Regions from separate parts of the Homo sapiens genome. Here all the other regions are reported to be linked to region 2. The links are microRNA targets in miRTarBase. Many come from high-throughput screens and were not tested one by one. Region 2 holds a microRNA gene; each other region holds the end of a gene's coding sequence. Distances are between the middles of the regions.

The links. Region 2 holds the annotated microRNA hsa-miR-609 (AGGGUGUUUCUCUCAUCUCU, at 1,114-1,133, opposite strand). A microRNA usually pairs through its seed, bases 2 to 8, with sites in the 3' UTR of a target mRNA and lowers its output. Matches are read on the target gene's strand: a 7mer-m8 pairs with bases 2 to 8, a 7mer-A1 pairs with bases 2 to 7 and ends in A, and an 8mer does both.
Region 1: the mRNA of ZNF131 is a reported target of hsa-miR-609. Seed matches in the 3' UTR shown: 7mer-A1 at 2,161-2,167.
Region 3: miRTarBase lists GLUD1 as a target of hsa-miR-609. Seed matches in the 3' UTR shown: 7mer-m8 at 1,557-1,563.
Region 4: miRTarBase lists LRRC10 as a target of hsa-miR-609. Seed matches in the 3' UTR shown: 7mer-A1 at 1,798-1,804.

The regions. Positions count from the first base shown.
Region 1 is chr5:43,174,905-43,177,904 of GRCh38, reverse strand. ZNF131 (zinc finger protein 131) reads right to left here. Exons shown (of 7, transcript NM_001330707.2): 7 at 1,583-3,000. The coding sequence ends at 2,772. Among named protein-coding and RNA genes, the nearest start is that of NIM1K, 16 kb to the left of the region's middle.
Region 2 is chr10:104,217,736-104,220,974 of GRCh38, forward strand. It overlaps MIR609 (microRNA 609), which reads right to left and starts at 1,148; the gene lies at 1,054-1,148. The region is part of intron 3 of CFAP43 (cilia and flagella associated protein 43); the gene reads right to left.
Region 3 is chr10:87,049,012-87,052,250 of GRCh38, forward strand. It overlaps GLUD1 (glutamate dehydrogenase 1), which reads right to left. Exons shown (of 13, transcript NM_005271.5): 13 at 1,191-2,859. The coding sequence ends at 2,740. Among named protein-coding and RNA genes, the nearest start is that of FAM25A, 30 kb to the left of the region's middle.
Region 4 is chr12:69,607,293-69,610,531 of GRCh38, forward strand. It overlaps LRRC10 (leucine rich repeat containing 10), which reads right to left. Exons shown (of 1, transcript NM_201550.4): 1 at 1,272-3,239. The coding sequence ends at 2,713. Among named protein-coding and RNA genes, the nearest start is that of LRRC10, 2.0 kb to the right of the region's middle.

The DNA.
Region 1 (3,000 bases), not on the chromosome of region 2:
CACATCAACATGCTGGGAAAGTGGCATGCCAAGTGAGGGCAGAGAAACCTCTACTATTCTCCTCCACAACCCCCTCCATCCACCTTACTCTATGCATCTCTTCCATTTGGCTGTTCCTGAATTGTATACTTACTGTAGTCGTTAAGTATAGTGCTTTCCTGAGTTGTTTCAATGCATTATTGAACTTGGGGGGATGGGAAGGCCATAAGAACCCTAAATTTACGGTTGGCTGGGCAGAAGCGCGGGTAGCCTGTTGATCGCATTTGTGGCTGGTGTCTGAAGTGGGGGCAATTTTGTGGTACTGAGCACTTAACTTGCTCTAAATCTGGGTGGTGTCAGATTCAATTGTTGGACACCCAATTGATGTCTGAGAATTGCTGTTGAAACGGAGTAGAGATAGAAAAGCCTCTCATCGTTCTCAGTGCACTTGGGACTTATTTCTATGTGATCATCATTGCACACTCTACTGTCCAACTTGGTACCTCATACTGTAGACTTATCTTAAAACTCCAGTACAAATACAGTAGAACACTGGAGGACTAAATATCCAGTTTGCTTCAGTACTTGAAGCAAATATACATCAGTTGTTAACAGCTGTTTTATGTTCTACATAAAGTGCTTTCCAACTACAAAATGTTATTCAACATACAGTTTATCACCAGTAGATAGTTTTCCTCTACTTTTGCAATCAAATTTACTGGCATTCTGGGTACACTGATAGCTTCTATACCTTTTGGGAAAAGAAAAATGAACTATATCTGCATCTCAAATCTACCTCGAAAGGTCTTGACAAATGTGAAAACTCAAATAATTTTAACACTTTGATGTACCTTTGCCCTTGATCTTTACCTTGTGGTCAGAACTCTTGTTTTAAAATCCTTGTTTCATACCTTAGCTTAAGGGCATAGTATGCGCTATTTTCAGCATTCAAAATTCACCAGATACTAACTAGTAATTTACATATTTGAGACCACTATCTGTTAGGGTTTTTTTTCTTAAACAACTCAGGAACATTGGCATCCTAAGGCAAACTGAAAATTCACTGGGATATAATTTAATTATATTATTGGTATTTTCCAATTTCAAATAAAAACTATACTGTTAAATAAGCTTTGCAGTAGATACCCAACTACCAAACAGTACACACTTGGAAGTGTTCATACCCTTATTTTGATCTTAAAAACGTGGCCCCCTTAATACAATGGTTGGCTCTATCTCCAGATTTATATCTAAATCTGACTTCTCCAATGCTGGGAAGCCACTCTCTTCAGCGTATTTTTGTAAATGTGATACCATTTAACGTCACGATTACCAAAGGGGGCTAATCGCATTGGTCTTTTACATTTGACACAGTTAAGTGGAGAATTCCTGCTATTGTGCCTACCATGTAAGAACTATTAGCATAAAGAATATGAACTACTTCCATGCTTTTGAGCTGATTTTGGGGGGTTGGAGGTGTGATGGAAAATTTATCACAATTCATGCATCAGTCATGTTAACACGGGTAAAGACACATGAGGAACTATCTCTGCCCAGATATAAACTTTCACGCTGGTAATTTTTTAAAAAAGAGTCATGAACACATAATTTTAAAGTTTACTTAAAAAATGTAAAGAACTCCCAATATTTAACAGGTAAAAAAAATAGCATATTGGTCTATGGGTTTGTTATATTTTATTTTCCAAGTAATACTGATTAAAAATATTTACACACCTACTTTTAAGTCCACAGTTTAGCACTCTTATTTGTATGGCTTTAAAAGTTATAGCACAAGATCTTTACATTAAGAATTGGGGGAAAAGATTCCATTCAAAACAAAGCCTGATAATTATATACATGTCTTTCTCTGTACTTTATTTTAAATACATTAATTTTTAAATGCTGCTCATCTTTTTCTCATCTGGTGGTAAAATACTAGTGCAACTTTTCATCAAAATAAAGTTTACCACAGATGTAAATAAATTTTCCCAATTGAAAATGGCCCTTCAGTGGCCATTAAATAAAATTTCTCAACCTAACTTAAGTGAAAAAGAACTGGTGGTTGTCATTATAACCAAAAATATAAAGTATTATAGCATCATCTACATTGCTCCTTACAACACAAACTTTGAAAGAACCAGAGATGCTTTATAGAAGTTCAGTTGGTTTTGAGAAGGCACATGGGTGTGGATTTTTTTTTTTTTTTAACATTCTAGAAATTTTGCCACCACCACTCTTTCTGTTGCAAAGATGGCATCTGTGACTACTGGGGTAGACAAGAACGTTTGTTCAAACTAAAGAAAGCCAGAAGCCAAAATTTAACTGCACAGTAACAATGCACTTTTCATCATGCAGCCTTGTGTTTCCTATATTATTCAATTTTCTAACATGCATTAGAATACATAAACTTGTATTCTAATGATTTAAGTTTGATTTTACAATATGGAAAAAATTTGAGGAAGAACATGACCTGGGAAAGAGAAAAGGAAGAACTTTTACCACAATGAAAATAGATACATTCGTACCCAACTATATAATAAGAATATAATCCATTTAAGTTTCCAGAAATATACTTCTCAAAACTCCCCTTCAGTTATGGAAAAGATCCCTCCTCTGTGGCAATAAGTAGGGGGAGGGGAATCAATGTGTTTCAACGGACAACAGTTCAGCACAACAGGAAACAGCTTAACTTTGGTCCACTTGTCTGTTAGGCTTAATTAAGGACAGTCAAACTGCCCATAATCAGTTCAAAAACCCAACAAGTAAATTTAAAAATATATTCATGTGTAATTTCATTCTAAAACTGGCAGAGCTGTTCTGTCCTCATTCTCTGCCTTTTCTGCTTCAGAATCCACTGTTGGCTTGGTCTCTAAATCCTCAGCATCTTCGTGATCTTCCCTGGCAGCCTCAGCAGCATCTGCTTGGCTAGACTCTCTCTCCTCTTGGTTCATGATTTCTGGGGTCACGTGGTCCAAATCTGCTTCTAGAAGTTCAGTTTGTACTTCCACTGGCATTTGATTG
Region 2 (3,239 bases):
CACCTGCTCCACTGTATCATACAGATGCTGAGGCACTTAAGTGTTCTGGGTAAAATGGAGTTCATAATTGCCATAGGAGTTGAGTGTGGAGGAAGGGGACTTTCTCTCAATAATTAATACCCTTAATACAAATTTAGCAGATTTATAATTTCAGGTCTGTTTACATTTGTTGTCAAAGCTTCATAAACTATTTACATAAATGAAAGCATGTTCGAGTTTCTAAATGTTGCTATGACAAGCAAACAGAGAAACTGCTTAGACAACACTTGCTTGCGCCGTAAATACATATGGCAACACCTGGTCATTCTTAAAGAAATGCTTGTGTTTCCAAGGCCGGGCGCAGTGGCTCACGCCTGTAATCCCAGCACTTTGGGAGGCTGAGGCGGGCGGCTCATGAGGTCAGGAGATTGAGACCATCCTGGCTAACACGGTGAAACCCCGTCTCTACTAAAAATACAAAAAATTAGCTGGGCGTGGTGGCGGGTGCCTGTAGTCCCAGCTACTCGGGAGGCTGAGGCAGGAGAATGGCGTGAACCCGGGAGGCAGAGGTTGCAGTGAGCCGAGATCGCACCACTGCACTCCAGCTTGGGTGACAGAGTGAGACTGTGTCTCAAAAAAAAAAAAAAAAAAAAAAAGGAAAGAAATGCTTGTGTTTCCAAAAAGAATTTTTTTTCAAGTCATAAGCCTTATGCAATTCTTCCAAGGTAATAATGTGTTTGTCCTTCCTTCTCAAGCAGTGGTTCAAGGCATCTCAAGGCACATTGCTCTCTGAGGTTCTGATTTAACTGGCCGAGGGGAGAGGGGAAGAGTGGGCACTAACATTTTTTAAAAGCTTCACAAGTCATTCCAGCATGTAGTCAGTGTTGAGAACCTTGGTACTAAAGGCTCTTGCATCTTCCTACTGTCACTTGTCCTCACCAAAAGCCCTTGAGGTAGTCCCTGGGTCAGGCAATGATCTCTTTCATGCAAGCCCTGCATTTCAACAGAAGGTTTGTGCCCTTCCCCTCATCCTTTTCCCTCCCCATTGGCTCCCAAAATACACCGGTGGTTTAGGGTTCCTCTGCTGTTCCTAGGGTGTTGCCCTCATCTCTACTATTTAACCCATTATAGACCAGAGATGAGAGAAACACCCTAGGAACAGCCGAGCAGCATGACAGCGGGAGACTGGACGCTGACCCCGAGGAGCCACCACACCAACCACAGCTGCTCGTGCCCAGACAACTGCATGTGACAGAAGGAAACACATGTTGGTGATTTGGGTTTCTGTGACCACAAATGAACCTAAGTCCTAACTGATATATCAGCTGCCAACTAGACATCTCCGTTTGTTCATCTCAAGCACTCTCAGTTCAGTTTGTCCCCCAGCTCATCTTCCCCCATTGCCTCCCCTAAATTCCCTGCCCCCAAGCCCTCAGTATCTCTCTGAATAGCATCAGAGTGTCCCTAAGTTGCCCAAGTCACACGCAACTCTGGATATAACCCTAGACCCATCCCTCTTCCTCAGCACGACACCCAATATTTAGTCAGTTACAAGTCTCATGATGCTACCTCCTAAACACCTCCCAAATAGTTTCACTTCCCTCCATCCCTACTCCCACCCTAGTCCATGACACAGTCATCTCTCACCTGGACCACCACAGCCTCCTAATTGATGTTCATGCCTTGTTTCCTTCCAATATACCTTCCACAGTACGAAAGTATTGGAGATACTTTCATTGGAAATAATTGGCTGAAAGGAATCTTCTTAAATGCAGATATAATTGTGTCACTTCCCTGCTTAAAACCCTTTAGTAGCTCCCCACTGCCTTTAGGATAAAGAATTTGTCCATTAGCCTAGCTTATATGGAGTGTGAGTATCCTTCCCAGTATGCCTAGGAGAAACCCAGTTTAGGCTAAAGTGCCCTGCATTCATCAGCAACACCCTCTTTCACTCTCAAAAGCATCCTGATTTGGATGATAAACCACATGGTCACCTACATATAGGGCTGCTCATAAGCTCACCTCTGACTGTCCCTCCAAGCTTGCCTCTCTCATGGCAAATCTCTTGTTCCCGTTATCATGACCTTTTCATTGAAACCTGCTGTGCTTTTTCTACTTCATGGCCTTTGCACATGCCATTCCTCTGCCTAGGATGTTCTTTCTTCTCGTCACAAGGCTGATTCCTGTTCATCCTTTAGGTATTGCTATGGGTTGAACTGTGCCTCCCCCAAATTCCCGTGTTAATATCCTAACCCCCAGCACCTCAGAATGTGACCTTATTTGGAAATATGATCTTTACAGAGGGTAATCAAGTTAAAATGAAGTCATTAGGATGGGCCCTAATCCAATAAGTCTGGTGTTCTTATATAAAGGGAACATTTGGAGACAGACACACACAGGGAGAATGCCATGTGAAAATAAAAGCAGAGATCTGGGTGATGTGTCTGTAAGCCAAGGACTGCCAGCAAACAAGTGAGCAGAAGTTGGTGAGAGGCGCGGGGGCAGATTCTCTCTCACAGCCCTCAGTAGGAACCAACCCTGCTGAGACCTTGATCTCAGAATTCTAGTCTCCAGAACTGGGAGGCAATATACGCATGCTGTTTAAGCCACCCAGTCTGTGGTACTTTGCTATGGCAGGCCTAGCTAATTAATAGAAGTATCTGTTTAAACATTACCTCTCCTTCCAGGAAGCCTTCCCTGACCATTCCCCTCCACCAACAGACTATGTGAGATGCCCCTACTACAGGTTCCCATTGTGCCTTAGATCAATGAAAGCTATAAAAGAGCTTAGAAACCAAATGAGTTTAAAGCCCACTCAGCAACTCACCAACTATATAAGTTTAGGCAAGTAGCTATAAGAACAAAAAAAAAATGAAACTTGGAAAAAAGAAAAATTGTGTTGGCTTGATTTCTCATATCATGCTGGGAAGCATTTTCCAGCAAGCCTCCTCGAACAAAAACCAGACTTTGTACCTTGCTTTGCCCCATATCTGACACTCCTGGGGAATGTAACTTTGTTGTCATAATACATACTAACAGCCTCGATGTGATAAAGGCAGGCATGCTTTTACAGGTTAAACTCTAGAACATGTTCAATGCTATGATTGTATGCCCTGGTAGAACAGTTAAGTTTAAGGTCCTAAGGTTTTAGAGACCTCTGGAAAGATAATCATTCACATATCTAACCTAGAAATTTTATGTAACCACTACTTTTTCTAACTCTATATGAGTGAGCGTGTGTGTGTGTGTGTGTGTGTGTG
Region 3 (3,239 bases), 17 Mb from region 2:
ATGGTGAAACTCCATCTCTAATCAAAATACGAGAAAATTAGCTGGGCGTGCTGGCACGCATCTGTAGTCCCAGCTGCTAGGAAGGCTAAGGCAGCAGAATTGCTTGAACCCAGGGGGCGGGGGGTTACAGTGAGCCGAGATCACGCTACTGCACTCCAGCCTTGGGGACAGAGCGAGACTCCGTCTCAAAAAAAAAAAAAAAAAAAAAAAAAAAAGAAAATTTCTGTCAAGGTAAAAAGAGTAATTGACCAGATTTTTAAAAACTAAAACCTTCAGGAGCCAAAATTACTGACACTAGTGCTCTCATCTTTATATAGCTAGCACAGGCAATTTAGTTTTCTAATATTACTATCAACAATACTCCTCAACATTAATCTTTAAAAAATTACCATTGGCCAGGCATGGTGGCTCATGCCTGTAATCCTAGTACTTTGGGAGGCCAAGGTGGAAGGATCACTTGAGTCCAGGAGTGTGAGACCAGCCTGGGCAACATAGGGAGACCTCGTGTCTACAAAAAAATAAAAACAATTAGCCAGGTGTCGTACCCATACATGTGGTCCTAGCTACTCAGGAGGCTGAGGTAGAGTAACTGCTTGATCCCAGGAGGTAGAGGATGCAGTGAGCCGTGATTGCACCACCGCACTCCAGCCTGGGTGACAGAGCAAGACACTGTCTCAAAAAACAAAAACCAACCCCCCAACCAAAAAAAAATCAGTATTTCCAATATATAGTCAAAGGCCACCACTAAGACTTATCCCACATTCACATGACTTAAATCTGCTGCCCCACCATTATTCTAACATTCTGGAACTGGTTTTTGTATCACTTTCCCCCTTACACATTTTAGTAGCCCACCTAGAGTGCAGATAGACACCACCATGCTGGGGAAGGGCTCACTATGCCCATATACTGGGGGCCTGTTTATCTGACTGACCCTATGCCAGGAGCATGCAGAGGCAGAACTGTGACATACGGACAAAGACCAAATGAAAGCCAGGCTTCACACTGGCAGTTAAGTAACTGGTGGAATCAAGTCTAGAATCCAGTTCTGATTACAGTTAGTATTCTCTCTTCAATAGTTGTTACATTCTGTGGCTAAATTATTCCACATTAAATCCCCTTTAGTGAAAAACGGCACTAAAAGTTACTTCACTATCAGCTTTCAACATTAGAGCCTCTTTCTCAAGAACAGCTGTTCATATTATTTAATAAAATACAAAATAATTCGAGAATAAAGACTATGCTTTCAGGGATCATTTCTATAGTTCGTTACTCGGGAAGTTTCTCTGAACGTGTAAAGCACCGAACAAAAAAAAAAAAAACAATTCAAGAATAAAATCTGGGCAGCTCACAATAAAGTGGAAGGAAATGTTATACAGGTGGTCGCTATAAACATTTCAGAAATCCAATTGCAGTATTATAACTTATGAAAAGAGAAACTACCACATGTAAAAACACAGAAAAGAAACGTAAGTTTTGGAAAACGTAGACTTTTAATAACTGCTTTTATCACCAGGTTAAGCCATGCAGTTACAAAGTAGTTAGAAATTTCTGAAGGGTGTTAGAGTTAAAAAAAAAAAAAAAGCTGACTCTTACACATATATTATCTAGCACTTCATGGGGACACTACTGTTCAAAAGGCCCTGGCCAAATAACTCCCAAATGAAACACTCAACCCAAGGATGTTTTCAGCCCACTGTTAGTGAAGCTGGGTGCAGAATGCAAAGCCTCTAAAAGGAGAGGATACAAAGTCAGGTGAGTAGGGGCCATTGGCAATGCTCAGAGCCAGCCAGACTCCAAACAGGGAGCCCAAGTGGTTTTTTTCTGGGACACTCTACTTGAATTATTGTTTAATTAGTCAACCATAGATCTTCAAAAGAGAACAATTAGTTAACATGATAAAAAGTGACTGCATTCTTTGGACTGTATCATAATTATAGTAAGCAAATTCTGACAGTTTTAATGAAAATAGCCTCCACCATTTTGCAGGTATGAAGATAACTTAATTATCCACAGGGCTTTTAATGTCTGCTGGACAATACATGAATGATAAGCTATAAATGACATTGTTTTATGATATAAAAATACTAGTTTTTTTCATTTATTATTTCTATAGGCATTCACTGTTTGAGTCAAGGTTAGGCTTGTTAAGTGATTAAAGGCAATTTTATTACAGCAGCATGTACTTATTCTATTCTAAAAGAATAATATTCATAAACAGAAACAGGTTTTATATTTGTTTGCAACCTGCAAAATTGAATTATTTTGCTGATATAAAATACTAAGAACTCACTTGAGGACCATGCCACCTTCTGAAAAGGCCACACACCTACTTCTTAAATGTGTTAAAGTTACAGTGTGTCCCAGACTCATCCAGAAAAAATAAGCAAGCAACTGACTGCTCTTGACTGTTCCTCCCCAGCACTAGCACTGATTGTGTTGGGAAAAGCCACAGAGCAAGGCTGCACAGCCAGATAAAGGAGGCTTTTTATTTAAAGGCAAAATACCAAAATGGCTCTCTGGTGTAGGTGATTTCTACTTTCACACTCAGCTTGTACATGATCCGCTAACCTTAATTTCTTTCTCCTTAACGGGCTGACTTGGATTGACTTGTTGAGAATGGTATCCATTATTAATGAGTCAGGAGAGAAAGGGATTTCTGTGGTTACATGTAAACTTGTGATAGGTCTGCAGAAGTTACATGTGAAGAGGATAGTGAGGAAGTCAGCCATGATCCATCTATGTGAAGGTCACACCAGCTTCATTGTACACTTTGAAGACTTTCTCAATGGCATTAACATAGGCAGCTGTTCTCAGGTCCAATCCCAGGTTATACTTCATGGCTGTGCGCATAATTTGCTGAAATGAAAGAGAAAATGCAGTGAAGATGATCCTGACTCAAGTGGCCAGGCCATAAACACACAAGGCCCAGACAGGCCTGGTCCAAGTTACCCTCTCATTGTTTCAAGGCAGGACTTGGGCAGCCAAAGACAAACTACTCTAGCAGCAGAACCTCTAGGCAGGAGGGCCTAATTCTCTGGACTTAACAATGGGGTGGCTGGGTGCGGTGGCTCACGCCTGTAATCCCAGCACTTTGGGAGGCCGACGTAGGCAGATCACTTGAGCTCAGGAGTTCAAGACCGGACTTGCCAACATGGTAAAACCCTGTCTCTACTAAAAATACAAAAATTAGGCAGGGGTGCGGTTGCTCACACCTGTAATCCCAGCACTTTGGGAGG
Region 4 (3,239 bases), not on the chromosome of region 2:
AGTTTCAAGACTTAAAAATCAGGAGCAAAAAAGTTACATTTGGTGCTTCAACATTTTCTTATTTTACTTTCTAATTGTGTCAACATTTCCAGAAACTATTAGAAGGGTTATAGAAATGTAAGTATGCATTTATATACTTTATAAAATTGATTGAAGGCCGGTTGCGGTGGCTCACACCTGTAATCCCAGCACTTTGGGAGGCCGAGGTGGGCAGATCACGAGGTCAGGACGAGACCATCCTGGCTAACACAGTGAAACCCTGTCTCTACTAAAAATACAAAAAATTAGCTGGGCGTGGTGGCGGGCGCCTGTAGTCCCAGCTACTTGGGAGGCTGAGGGAGGCTGAGGCAGGAGAATGGCGTGAACCCGGGAGGCGGAGCTTGCAGTGAGCCGAGATAGCGCCACTGCACTCCGGCCTGGGCGACACGGCAAGATTCTGTCTCAAAAAAAAAAAAAAAAAATTGATTGAAAATCTACAGTGAAAACATTTTTGGAAAGCAAATTCAACAGCGAACACTTGACCATACCATTTGAGAAATGTTCTTTGTGTATTGACTGTTTTAGAAGAAAACAGCTTGATTATGGGCCAAAATGTTTATAATTTGACTACTGATTCAGACCAGTTAGCTCTTTAGATGACAGTTCTGTATGGATCAATTGGCTTCACTCTGTTTTATGGTTATAGTCTGCAACTACAGAATGGCCGATTAATCTTGGGAAGGGTAAGACAGGGTCAAAAGAAAGTCAGAAATCTATAAACCTTGCTATAGATTAAGCTTAGAATGCAAGTTCTGTTGACAAAAGTTTCTAGCATCAGCTGAGTATAATTTGGCTTCCGTCATTAGGAATGAGATAAATCCTAACTGTCCAACAGAAATATGGACTTGTTTCTAAAGGAGTTAAATATGTTTGACCTGAAAGTTTAAACCTATTACATTAAATGATTAAAGGGACCTTTTTTGGCAGTCTGATCAATGGGTTGCAAATGCTCTGCAGATGGGAGGTGACGATAGGAAGGAATTATGCAACATCATCCTTCCTCTAGTTTAGCAGGAAATATTTCTGGTAGGAAGACATACATGAAAATAGGTCTGCTGTGTAATGTCATTTTAGAACCAAACTTTGTTGGGTTAAGATGCTTTTACAGAAAACATCCTTTTAAAAACTTGGTACTGTATGTTTTAGTTAAGATAACACTTTTTGTGTCCTTGTTTGCTGAAAACGTTCAAGTACATAAAGAATTGTATTATTAAATTACCCACTGACAACAATTTCTTTAAAGTTTATATATTTGTGGGAAGGTCACAATTTACATACTTCCAAAAAACAAAATACCTTGGTTTATACATTGTCAAAACAGTCTGTAAAAATCAAAACAAATTGAAACAAAGGCAGAGATACTAGGCGAAAGAGGCAGAGACTTCCTATATACACTACAACTTCCTATTCAAATTTCAAAGTGCTTGTTTCAAGAGAACACATTTCTCACCTACTACCTTTAAACTAACATGCTTCTGGAAATGTGGTTTTCCTCCAAGGACAGGGATTCAATTTAGCTCAGCTCTGGCTCATTAGTGTGAATAAACAGAAGGGCTTTGCTTCAGGGAGGTAGACAGGAATCACAACAAGGCTTGACTTTAATGAGACCACATTACCACAGAGGTTCTCTTTTCCAGATGACTTCCAACATTGTCAGTGACAGTCAACTGTTGGGAGCAGATCTTGGGACAAACCTTTTAGGGAAAATGAACTAAATCAGCATGAGCCACTGTCAAGTTTAAGGTGACAGCTGAAGGCTGGGTGTGGTGGCTCATGCCTGTAACCCCAGCACTTTGGGAGGCTGAAGCAGGAGCATCGCTTGAGCCCAGGAGTTTGAAACTAGCTTGGGCAACATAGCAAGACCTCATCTCTACGAAAAAATTAAAGACTTAGCCAGGTGTGCACATCTGTAGTACCAGTTACTGGGCAGGCTGAGGCGGGAGGAAGGCTTGAGCCCAGTAGTTCGGGGCTGCAGTGAGCCATGATTGTGCCACTGCACTCCAGCCTAGCAACAGAGTGAGACCTTGTCTCTAATAATAATAAAAGGGGCAGCTGGAGTCCACCAAGAAGTATTGTCCATCAGGGATCTTTTCAGCAGGCACTAAACTGCTGGGGAAAGAGTTTCATCTTGAGCCTTTACAACAACAAACAACTTTTTTCTGTGAATCTGACTGATTGCCTAGGTAGAAATGTCCTTTTCGGTGGCCTCAGTGATACATTGATACTGTTTATGGTCATTTACAGTAAAGAAAATATGTCCTGCAAAGAGACAGACCACCAGAATATTTAGTTCTATGGCAAATACCTTATTTGAGGAGCTCATGAGCTTCATGACCAGTCACTTCTGGAGAGTGCAGGAGTTCAGAGTGTCCCAGCCCCTTTTGCTCTTCAGTGTTTCAAAATACATGTGTGGAGAAGCTGTTTTCTTGCAAAGAAGTTATGATCTCTGGATTGTCATGCCATCATTGGCACACAACTCCCCTCTGGAAGAGGAGCTGTTTGCCAGAAATATTTTCTCAGTGTGATTTATGGCATTCCACCTGGCTCTCTCCATCAGTCTCTACTAGCAGAGCCACTCCCAAATGACCCAGAGCCATCCTTTCCACTCCAATGGAGAGGCTTCCAGAACATGCTGCAGTTGGGTCCTTGGCATTGACTTGCAACTGAAGCTCCTCAGGAGTTGGTAGGAGGAAGTAGAGGGACTGGTGCCTGTAGCTCCTGGCTTTCCTCTCTGACCAACGCATAGCGCCTGGCTTTTCTAGGGTCGGGCTCTGGCGTCTCCTCTGCCCATCTCCCCACACGGCGCACACCTTTGGCCACCTTGGGTGCGTTCCTGCAAGGATTGTGGTCATAGATGACCAGCTTCAGACTTGACAGGTGCGCCAGGCTGGGGAAGTAACGGATGCTGTTCCAGTCCACATCAATCACCTCCAGGAAGGGCATGTGAAGCAGCACAGTGGGAAAGTCAGTTAGCCGGTTGCCCGAGAGCCAGATGGTCCTCAGCTCCTGGAGGCGCCGGAGCTGGCCTGGCAGCAAACGCAGGGCGTTGGAGCCGGCATGCAGAGTCTTAAGGAGACTCAGCTCACAGACCACATCCGGCAGCTGGGTGAGGCAGTTGGCCTCGATCCACAGGGTCCTGAGGTTCTGGAGCAGGCTCAGCTCACTGGGGAGGTCGCAGAGTTTGTTGTTGCCCAGGTAGA